Homo sapiens: one gene and its partner. The protein of the gene in region 1 interacts with the protein of each later gene in a pairwise test. Each region holds a gene or a part of one and is shown in the gene's direction. Other genes may lie near its edges. The genes, in order: RXRG and CKMT1A.

Region 1 (7,302 bases):
TCAATAGGCCAAATGTTGGGAACTGTGGTTCGTTAAATGTTTTTAAAAAAGGAAGGAAAACAGGGACATGTGAACTGTAAGAGACACTTCTATGGTTTGGGTACTTTAATAGAAAGTTGGACCCAATTTTTGCTCCTGCATTTTTTAAAAGAATGTGGAGAAACAGAAAGAATAGTGAAAAGCTGAGTAGTAAAAATTAGGAGAGGGAAAGGAGCTCTTAGGGAACTTTCTGAAGAGATTGGCACCATTTACCCTGACAAAGGGAAGGCAAAGAAGTGAATCAATTCCTCCGCTGACTATATAAGGGGGCGCATTTCAAAAGGCTACTGGATAGCCTGTCCACCGCCATCATTTCTGGTCTTGATTTATAGAATTTGGGGCTCAGTTTGAACACTTTCTTGAGGACAAGAATAATAACATCCTGGAGCAGATAACAGAGAGACCATGGAAATCACACAGATAAAGAGATGGAATTGGGGTAGGTACAGAATTTACCTGCCTGGGATCAGGGGCCAGGACCTGTTGCCCTTTTAGGATAAATAATGTTAAAGCTAGAGTGGACATTTTCTATTCTCTAACGTAACACGTCCATTTCCTGAAAGACAAATTAGAGGTTTGGAGAGCCTAGCCCACACAAGCCCACACAGCAAGCACATGGCAGACCCTGTATAGGACTGGGACCCTCTGATTAGTGGGCCACCTCAGGAATTCTGGAATGTCTATTTCCATGATTTCTTGTCATATACATGTAGTTTCAAGACTGGTGAATGGATTGCCTTTGAGGCAGTTCATGGGCAGCATTGGTATCCTTGTGAGCCCTGTGTGGTCTTTATTAATAGACCTAGCCCAGTACCTTGGAGGCAGTACTGAGAGGTTAGAGATGGGCCCAGGAGGAGCCATTGTGGGTGCATGTGCTGGCTCCATCATGGCCTACCACATGCCCTCAGATATGTTACTAGTTTCTCTGTGGCTCGTAGTATGTCAGAGCATTATTGTGAGGATTAAATGAAATGTAATCTATCTAAAATGTTGAGCATAATTCCTGACACAGAGAAAGAGCTTCATAAATTTTGCCTATTGTAATAAGTGCGAAATAAACACGTGTTGGATGAATGGTTAAAATCCTTTCCTAAGGCAGAAGTTTGGTTTTATTTTTAATCATCCAGGGTTCCCTGGATGTACCCTGATGTGTGTCGTAACAGTAGCTCAGAATGTCTGACAAGTAGAAGCTACCCCCCAATAACAATATATGACTCCTCATTTATGACAGGAAGACTTAAGGCACAAAGAGGAAAAGTGAATAGCAAAGGGTTTGCTCATACAAAACCAGAATTCGAATCAAATTCCCTGACACCAAGGATATTTTCTCTGAAGCTTGAAGGTTATTTTCCTTGAGTGTTACAAATCTCTAGAAGACATTGATTGAGGACCACGAATGAAACTTAACTTAGTTTGCTTTCCCTCATCTTTTAAAGTCAAGACAAATAGAAGCTCATAACCTACCTTTAAAAAAATTAATACAAGAAGCATTCAACATTTCCCAGTAAATCCAAATATAATAAAAAATACATATTATAGTTTCTACATGTTGTCAGTGAATGAAGTCTGACAGAGTGAGCAGAAAGTAAGGATGAGACAGAAGGAGGAAGAAAACAGGAGAGAGAGGAAGAGGCCAAAAAGGGAGATGGAGAGATGAGCCCAAGGGGGTAAAAAGACACCAAAGGCAAGAGGAAATAACTATTTGTATTGAGTTTTTATAATTGCTTCATTCATCCTTACGATATTATTTCAGTTAACTACTGAAGAGTACCAACCTTAACTAAGTACCAGCCTTAACTATCTCAGTTAATCTCTGCTTCACAGATAAGGGATCTGGGGCTTACTAAGCTCAGTCATATGGCCAATGCCATTTAGCAAGGAAGGGGTAGAGTTATATGTGAAAAAGTTTTCTTTGACTCCAAGGCACAGGTTTTTTCCCCTCTTTTCACTATTTTCTCCTCTCTGTTCTCTCTCCCTTCTGTTTCCTCTTTTTCTCACCCTGTTTTGTTGTCTCTTTCCCTTATTCCTTTTCTTCTTTCTACCCTCCTTGCCTCTCTCTCAATGACACAGTACCATTCTTGTCTTGAAGCTTTTTGGCGTATCTCCACTAAGTTTTGGAGCATAAGTTGTGTTTTTGCAGTCATACTCTTCTCTGACCTACCTTGAGAGACTGATATGGCTCGCATGACAAACTAGATGTTCGGCATTGCGATTCCAGTCCATTCTGCAGCCTCTGGGGCTCATTATCTCCTCAGAGAGTAGGAGGCACTCTTGCAAGTGGACTATGGGGAGGAAGGGAGAGAAACAGAAATAGGAGCTGCTAGTGGAGTAGCTGTCATGGAGTTTCAGGCTAGTCACCTGCTTAAAGGATAATTTTCTTGACTTTGGGGATGTAAAAAATGTGTTCTAATATTGAATTCTGTTTATTGCTGCTGTGAATAAGATGGAAACTACAGCCTTCTAGATGATGGAAACTAACCCAACAGAGACTTTTCTCCTGATGAAGAGCATAGAATTGGAGGGGGCAGCAGTCTGCTTTCAATCCTAATGTATAGACATGGAGGGTTCTGAGAGTTGCACTGAACCTTGATGAAAACCCTAAGCTTTGGAGAGGCTGAGATAATTTCAGCCTACACCTTTGCCTATGTACCCTCCCCAACCTCCAAAATGAGCCACTGATTCTGAAATGTCATCTAGGTGACATCCCTCCACCCCTTCACTTACTAAATACCCACAGCTGGCTCCCTAAAGATCTTCCCTGACAAGTCGGATCAGGTGATGTTGTGTTCAAGCTGGTGCACTAGGGGCAGACCTAATGGGACGTGAATGCCAAGGATGATGCATAGGATCTGACAGAGGGAGTTTTTAAAGTAATGTGCTTGTTACTTAACTATTTCATGCTCACAGTTTTTTAGAGGCAGCAGGTAGAGCAAGAATGTGGGGATCTGCAGGGATAGCAAGGAGTGGTTGGCCCATTAAAAGAGAGGATACAATTAGAGTTTATTAAAGCTTAAAATGGATACTTCCTAGTGTCGTCACCATAATGCATTGGAAAGAATATGCACTAAAGAACCCCTCATTCTCCTTAGGCATAAGCAAACAGCTTTGCTTTCCTTGTTTCATCTGTCAACATTCCAACATCCCCAATTCAGGATCATAATGATTCCCCTTTCATAGATGAGTAAATTGAGGCTCATGTGGGTAATAAACTTTCCCACTGTTGTCCTGGGCATTATGGTAACCTCTGCATGTCCTGCTGCATGTCAGCTGTGCAAGAAGAAAGACAGAGGAGCCGAGAGCGAGCTGAGAGTGAGGCAGAATGTGCTACCAGTGGTCATGAAGACATGCCTGTGGAGAGGATTCTAGAAGCTGAACTTGCTGTTGAACCAAAGACAGAATCCTATGGTGACATGAATATGGAGAACTCGGTATGTGCTCTTAGACACACATGTGTGTTCCATTTCTTGGGTAGGGCTGGAAATGGGAGAAAGGGGTGTATTTGAGTCCTGGGACCTGTGCCTCACAGTACTTTGTTCCTTTTTCAGACAAATGACCCTGTTACCAACATATGTCATGCTGCTGACAAGCAGCTTTTCACCCTCGTTGAATGGGCCAAGCGTATTCCCCACTTCTCTGACCTCACCTTGGAGGACCAGGTCATTTTGCTTCGGGCAGGTAAAGCACATTGGCTGCCTTTTTTCCTGGGACAATTTTGAAATTGCTCTTGGGATCCTAAAAAAAGTAGCCTGATGGAGCTGCAACATGTCCAAGCTATGTACCATGCTGATGATGAAATAACCCTGTGCGGGGTTGTTCATTCCCAAAGGAAGCATCGTTAATGAAGAAGTGGGACTCTTTTCCCATGCAAATTTTACCACGGCTTTATAATTTGCATAAATTTTAAAAAGACTATTAAATCATTTTATTGAGGATAATTTGAAGCAGTGGCTCATTATTGTAATGAAATTGGCAAATAGAGGTATTCCCATTTCATAGGTGAGATAAAGAAGCCAAAGATGTTTGCTCAAGCTTGTACTAGACGGGTTCCACTGTCTTCCTATTTTAAGACTCTATGTGCTGTATTTTCTTTTGCCTCCTATTTCTGGGACACTTGCAGGCCGTTGACATATGCCATATCTCCTCTTTGTCACTGAGCCAGCAGGGAAATTTCATGAAGATTGGCTGAGCATTGGGAACCAGTCCACTCATTCATCCCTGTTAGATAATGAGCACTCACTGAGTGTCAGCTGAAAGCTACAGACTGTGTTGGGTGTTACTAGACAATGCCAAAGAAACAAAACTAGGTTGTCAGATCCTAAGGGGAAAAACTGCAAGGTATATTAGCTTTATCCACCATGGCAGCTAACATAGTGACTATTATCCGCTAAATGTTCAACCCACATTTGTTGACTGATTAAAAAAAAAAAGAATCCTTGTCTTCAAGCTGTCATTCTGGGTTGCATCTGAGAGAGAGTGGGGGGATGTGCAGAGCCATAAGTCAGGAGACCCCAGTCTTATCCTTTGTTTCTTCGCTAATGAACTGTGTCATCTTGAACTAATTCTTAACCTCCCTAGATTGTCAATTCTGCTTGTGTTATGTGGGATAATAGTACATGCCTTGGGTGATTATAAGTAAAGAAAGAATGTGTTCTGTTTTCCCTCAAGACCTCCTCCTTATCCTTGCAGGGTGGAATGAATTGCTGATTGCCTCTTTCTCCCACCGCTCAGTTTCCGTGCAGGATGGCATCCTTCTGGCCACGGGTTTACATGTCCACCGGAGCAGTGCCCACAGTGCTGGGGTCGGCTCCATCTTTGACAGGTGTCTCTCTCCTGCTTCCAGTATTTGTGTGTATTATGTGTGTGTGTGTGTGTGTGTGTGTGTGTATACACATGTGTACATACATGAATTCTCACGTGGGCATGAACCTCTGGGTAGTGCTGGGATGGAGGATGGGCAGCCCAAACAGTTAGCTACACATGACCATGCAGAGACCACTAGGCACATGAAACTATAAACCTGGGGAATGAGGGAGAGATTAAAAGAAAGATTGAGATCACAATAAGATGGAGCCACTCAGAGGCCAGCACAGTTGCCAGGCAGTTGGGAGAACCTATTCTCCCAATGGATTTCCTAAGGAGAGATTAGATCTTGACATCAGCTAGTAAGTTGTGGGTGGAGAGGGTGAACTGTTTATCCTGGGGGCCAAGGATGGGAAAGGGATCAGGATCTGTCCTCAAGAGGCCAGGCAAGATGGACTGTTTATGCTGGGCTCTGGATGATCTCAGAAGGAGGCCTGCAGCAGGAGCAAACCCATCTTCGTCAGGCAGGGATACCCTGACAGAAATTCTGTGCCTTAAATGATACTAAAGGAAAATTAAGCCATCTGATAAGGAGTTGAATAAAATGAGTAGTTAATGACTTGAGAGTGAGAGGATGGAGAACTGGTAAAGAGGAGAATTAAGTTGAAATTAATCTCTCTGTCCAATGCCAGGGCCCCGTTGTCCCTTTCTACCTCCATCGTAAATGGTCTTCTTTGGTCATGTGCACATCCACTGAGCTGTATCTATTACTTCCCTGCCCTTTCCCACATGTTCCATGTAGAGCCCAACATGGTGTTTGGAATGACTCATCCCCCTTCGTGGTAACCGGACCTTTCTACCAGTTCATTGAATGCTGCCCTCTGCTGTGTTTTTCTAGACATGCAATCCCCTTACCTTGCTGTGCCTGTTGCGTTTCTAATTTCCAAGACTTCCATGATGCCTTTCCATTTCCCTGCTTGGAGTTCATTGCTTCCTCTTTGGAACCCACTTGGACTTTGCTCATGGCAGTTATATTCCTGGGCATCGTGCTGCTGCTAGTTTTTAATGTCTGTTTCTTTAGTTAAACTGTAATCTCCTTGCAATGAGGGGTTGCATCTTTTTCATTTCTGTACCCCTAGTAACTGGTACATCATCTGGAAACAGAGTGGGCTTATAAAAATTTTGGTTGAATTCATTTTATTGGCTCTTGGCCTGTTACTTACGGTTTTCTCATTACCTGCTTGTTTCCTGTTAACAGAGTCCTAACTGAGCTGGTTTCCAAAATGAAAGACATGCAGATGGACAAGTCGGAACTGGGATGCCTGCGAGCCATTGTACTCTTTAACCCAGGTAACCGCCCTTCAACCCCAGGGGATGTGTGTGTTCAGCCCTCTTCCACGGTCAACCTCCAGTGCTCCCATGTTATTGGTCCTCCATCTCAGCTGAGACACAGATGGCAGAGCCAGGAATCCAGGAGAGCTCACAGTGTCAGCTAGAGCCATTTTGGAAAATGTTTTGAATGAGTGTGGCAGGCGCGTGTCTGGGGCAAGTGGGGAAGATGAAAGATGACGGTGGCCCAGGGTGGCAGTGAAGGGGGTGGTAAAAAGCGATCACATTCTGGATATATTTCTAGATAAAGCCACTGTGATTTGCTGATGGATTGAATATAGAATGAGAAAGAAAGAAAGGAGTTATAGATGACTCTCTGGGTTTTTTTTTTTTTAAGTTTTGTTTTCCTGAACAATGGGAAAAATGAAGTTCTTATTCACCGAGATGGGGAAAACTCCATGAGGAGCAAGTTCTGACAGCGGGTGGGTAGGAATCGGGATCTTGTCTTTGGACATTAAAATAGGAAATGGGTAGTAGATATCCAAGAGTGGCTGCCCAGGAAGCAACTGCTCATATGAGTCTGGACTTCATGGGAGAAGCCATGTGCATCTGAGAGCTGTCAGCCTCTGCCTGTGTAAGGCTGTGACACTGGGGTGAGATCATCTGGGGAGATAGAGCAGAGAAGATGGCTGGGGACTGAGCCCTGGGGCATGCCAACATTTAGAGGTCAGGTAAAAAAGGGAGAGCCAGCAGAGGAACCTGAGAAGGGGCAGGCAGTGAGATAGGGACAGAATCAGAAGGGTGGTGTCCTGGAGGCTCGAGGGAAAATAGTCTTTCAAGAAGGAGGCGATCAGCTCCAGCAAACCCTGCTGTGGTCAAGAAAGATGAACCTTCAGAATTATGTAGTCATTCATGCAGAGGCTTTATCTCCAGAATTAGGCAGTTAGTTCATCAATGCAGGACATGTGCCAATTCAGCTTTCGTGCCCCATCTTATGACTCAGTCCATGCTCAGCACATAATAGGCACTCGGTAAATGTGTGCAGGTAATATTTCGAGAATGGTCCGGATAAAATTAAGCTCTCCTCCTTAGAGTCAGTGGTGGGTACATTTGCCTATTCATGGAGTTTAAAAT
Region 2 (3,166 bases), on another chromosome or scaffold:
AGGAACCTTAGAAAGTGAAGAAGGCAGGTAATGCAAAGAAGGAATAACTGAGATGGCACGTCAGTGCCTGGGATGTGTGCAGTGGGATGGTGAGGTGTGCAGATAAGGAAAACATTCGAGCTTAGATTGATGTTGGCGGGGAGAGGTTGCTGTGTTCATGACTCTAATATAACCACCCAGTTCTGAGACAAGGTAGGCCTTGACTCTGGATTCTATCATTCTTGTTAAAGTATCGGGTCTAGGCTTTAAGTTGAGAGTTCAGAGGGAGACTGGGGAAGGTGGAGGATAGAATGGTTCGAGTTCTAGAATATGTGGCTCTAGATGAGAGGTTGAACTGAATCATCAATCCTACATGGATTGGGTCTCCGTATTCAAGTCTACATTAGAAATCCCCATAAACTCAATTCAATTCTTACTGTATGTTCTCAAACATACAGTTCTATTTTAGGTTTGCAAAGAAAAAGAGCTCCTCTTTTAGATTCTGAGAAGTTTCTACTATTTTTGGCAAGTAATAGATAACATATTCTGACTATGAGTGGGTAGGGAAGTACCTTTAAATTATATGCCTCAGTTTCCTCATCTGTAAAATTGGGATAATGAGATTTTCTACATTTTAGGTTGTTGTGGGGATTAAGTGAAATACAGGTAAAGTACTTGGTCCACAGTAAGTGCTTAATAAGTGTTAAAGTGTTAGCTGCAATATTATTCTGGATGGAAGAGTTTCCCCCCATGTTCAGCACATAAGATATCCCTGGTGGCATGGTTCCTTCTGAACTACAAACAGGATCCCTTTACTCATGTTGGATAGTGGTCTTTGTGATCATCACTCTGCTAGATCCCTTGTCTCTTGAACTCTAATAGTCATCTTCATGACTACATGGTTAATGGAAGCAAAATGCCTTCCCCCTGTCCCCTATTCCTATGAATCTGGCTTTCCTGCTCTGTTTTCATCTTTCTCTGCATTCACACAGGTGCTCCGTTCACAGCTAATAGAACGTTATCTCACCTCTTCCTGGCAAAGCTTACACCTTCATCTTCTGTCTGAAAGGACCCTTCCAAGCTCTAGGCTCATTAGCAAAGCAAAGATAATCGATGCATGCAGACCTCATTGAATAATCAGTCCTCTCTCAGTTCAGTTTACCACCTCTGTTCATTTCCCTAGATCATCCTTAATACACCACGCCTTCGAGTTTTCTTCTTCCACATAAGATATTTTTTCACAATCTCATTATTATGCACATCATAATTTTGCATCATGCATGCATGAAAACAATAACAAACCTTTTTCATTTAAAAAAAGACCAATGTCATTCATTCACAGCCAAGTTTCTATTCTAGACAAATTTCTAGTGTTCTTGTGGGTCTAGCTAAGGGAGGGTCCAGGGTTAATGAAATATCCCTGATTTTTCATTAATAAAAACTTTGTGGACTCAGGTGGAGAGACTTATCCAAGAACGTGGCTGGGAGTTCATGTGGAATGAGCGTTTGGGATACATCTTGACCTGTCCATCTAACCTGGGCACTGGACTTCGGGCAGGAGTGCACATCAAACTGCCCCTGCTAAGCAAAGTAAAGGAGTTGTGGGGTTACAGAGGGGTGTGAGTAAGGAAGGGTGGGTTGTGGATGGGGAGGGAGTGGACCCTTTGGAGAGGAGCCAAACATGTTGTGGCTAAAGGGTCAGAGGACAGGCCAGGCACAGTGGCTCATGCCTCTAATCCCAACACTTGGGAGGCCAAGGCAGGCAGATCATTTGAGCCCAGGAGTTCAAGACCAGCCTGGGCAACCTGGTGAAACCCCATCTCTACTACAAATACAAAAGTTAGCTGGGTGTAGTGGAGGCTGAGGTGAGAGGATCACTTAAGCCTGGGAAGTCGAGGCTTCAGTGAGCTGTGATCACTCCAGCCTGGGTGACAGAGAGAGACCCTGTCTAAAAAAAAAAAAAAAGAAAAAAGGAAAAAAAAAAGTTCAGGAGACAGAGCTCTGAGCAGGTTCAGGGCTCTTTCAGGTAGGACTAGTCTCTGCCTCTATTGACCCTGCTCCCAATCCCTATCTCCTCTCTAGGATAGCCGCTTCCCAAAGATCCTGGAGAACCTAAGACTCCAAAAGCGTGGTACTGGAGGAGTGGACACTGCTGCCACAGGCGGTGTCTTTGATATTTCTAATTTGGACCGACTAGGCAAATCAGAGGTGAGATCCTAAGGGATTAGGATGAGGAGAGGTATAGGTCTGTGGGGGCTGAAATATGGCAGTGAGTGAGCCTCCGGGATGTAACATAATCTGAAATGAAATTCAGGTTGAGTGGGGAGGCAATTGGAAATGAGCAGGCAAGTCAGTCAGTGATAAAGAAAAACTCAGACTGTAGGAAGCAGAGATCAAAGATTAGTGTCCTTCAGGTGGAGCTGGTGCAACTGGTCATCGATGGAGTAAACTATTTGATTGATTGTGAACGGCGTCTGGAGAGAGGCCAGGATATCCGCATCCCCACACCTGTCATCCACACCAAGCATTAACTCCCCATCGCCAGCTGATGACTCAAGATTCCAAGGAGTTCTGCTCATTCTAATGATGGCCCATTCTACTTGCTCTGGACCTGCCCTCGCATCCCCTGCCTCCATCCTAGTAAAGACTCCTTGCTATGCTGCAGCTGTCTGTGTTACTTCTAATGGTGGGGTGAGGAGGGAGCAGCCTTCAGGAAATGAAAAGAGGCAGTGGGATTATTTATGATGGAAAGAGACTCCAGATATGGCAACCCAGGAACACTGATTCTCAGGTGGGTGGAAAGCATTAACATTTTACCCATATTCCTCATCAGCTTCTGAAAATAATCAGGATGCACTTCTGTTTGCACTTTATTCATTATGACTTAAGATTTCTCTCCCCACAATCTCCTTCTACTGTAGAGACAGGCTCATAGCAGGTGGCCAAGGAAGCTGATAGTCAATACCAGGGACCAGGAAGGTCGTGACCAGTCCTGGAGGCCCCAGGCTGTACTTCGACCTATAATAGACAGGGAATGGGAGTAATATCACAACTCAGCTCTCCAGGAGCATTGATACTTGGAAATTAGCGCTCTGCCTGTAGACTCCTTCACTCCAGGGATCTCCCTGGGTGCACTCTAAGAGCCAGACAGCACCAAATTAGGGGTTTGATTCTGGGTCAGGAGATG

Evidence for each region.
Region 2: the proteins of RXRG (region 1) and CKMT1A interact in binary tests that used the Homo sapiens proteins (3 or more experiments, as listed by UniProt).

The regions. Positions count from the first base shown.
Region 1 is NC_000001.11:165,407,114-165,414,415, reverse strand, and holds part of RXRG (retinoic acid receptor RXR-gamma), read left to right. Parts: intron 1-3,306; coding exon 3,307-3,467; intron 3,468-3,584; coding exon 3,585-3,714; intron 3,715-4,725; coding exon 4,726-4,858; intron 4,859-6,097; coding exon 6,098-6,189; intron 6,190-7,302. UniProt on the Homo sapiens protein: Receptor for retinoic acid. Retinoic acid receptors bind as heterodimers to their target response elements in response to their ligands, all-trans or 9-cis retinoic acid, and regulate gene expression in various biological processes.
Region 2 is NC_000015.10:43,696,580-43,699,745, forward strand, and holds the end of CKMT1A (creatine kinase U-type, mitochondrial isoform 1 precursor), read left to right. Parts: intron 1-1,434; coding exon 1,435-1,569; intron 1,570-2,061; coding exon 2,062-2,187; intron 2,188-2,393; coding exon 2,394-2,510; 3' UTR 2,511-2,643; downstream 2,644-3,166. UniProt on the Homo sapiens protein: Reversibly catalyzes the transfer of phosphate between ATP and various phosphogens (e.g. creatine phosphate).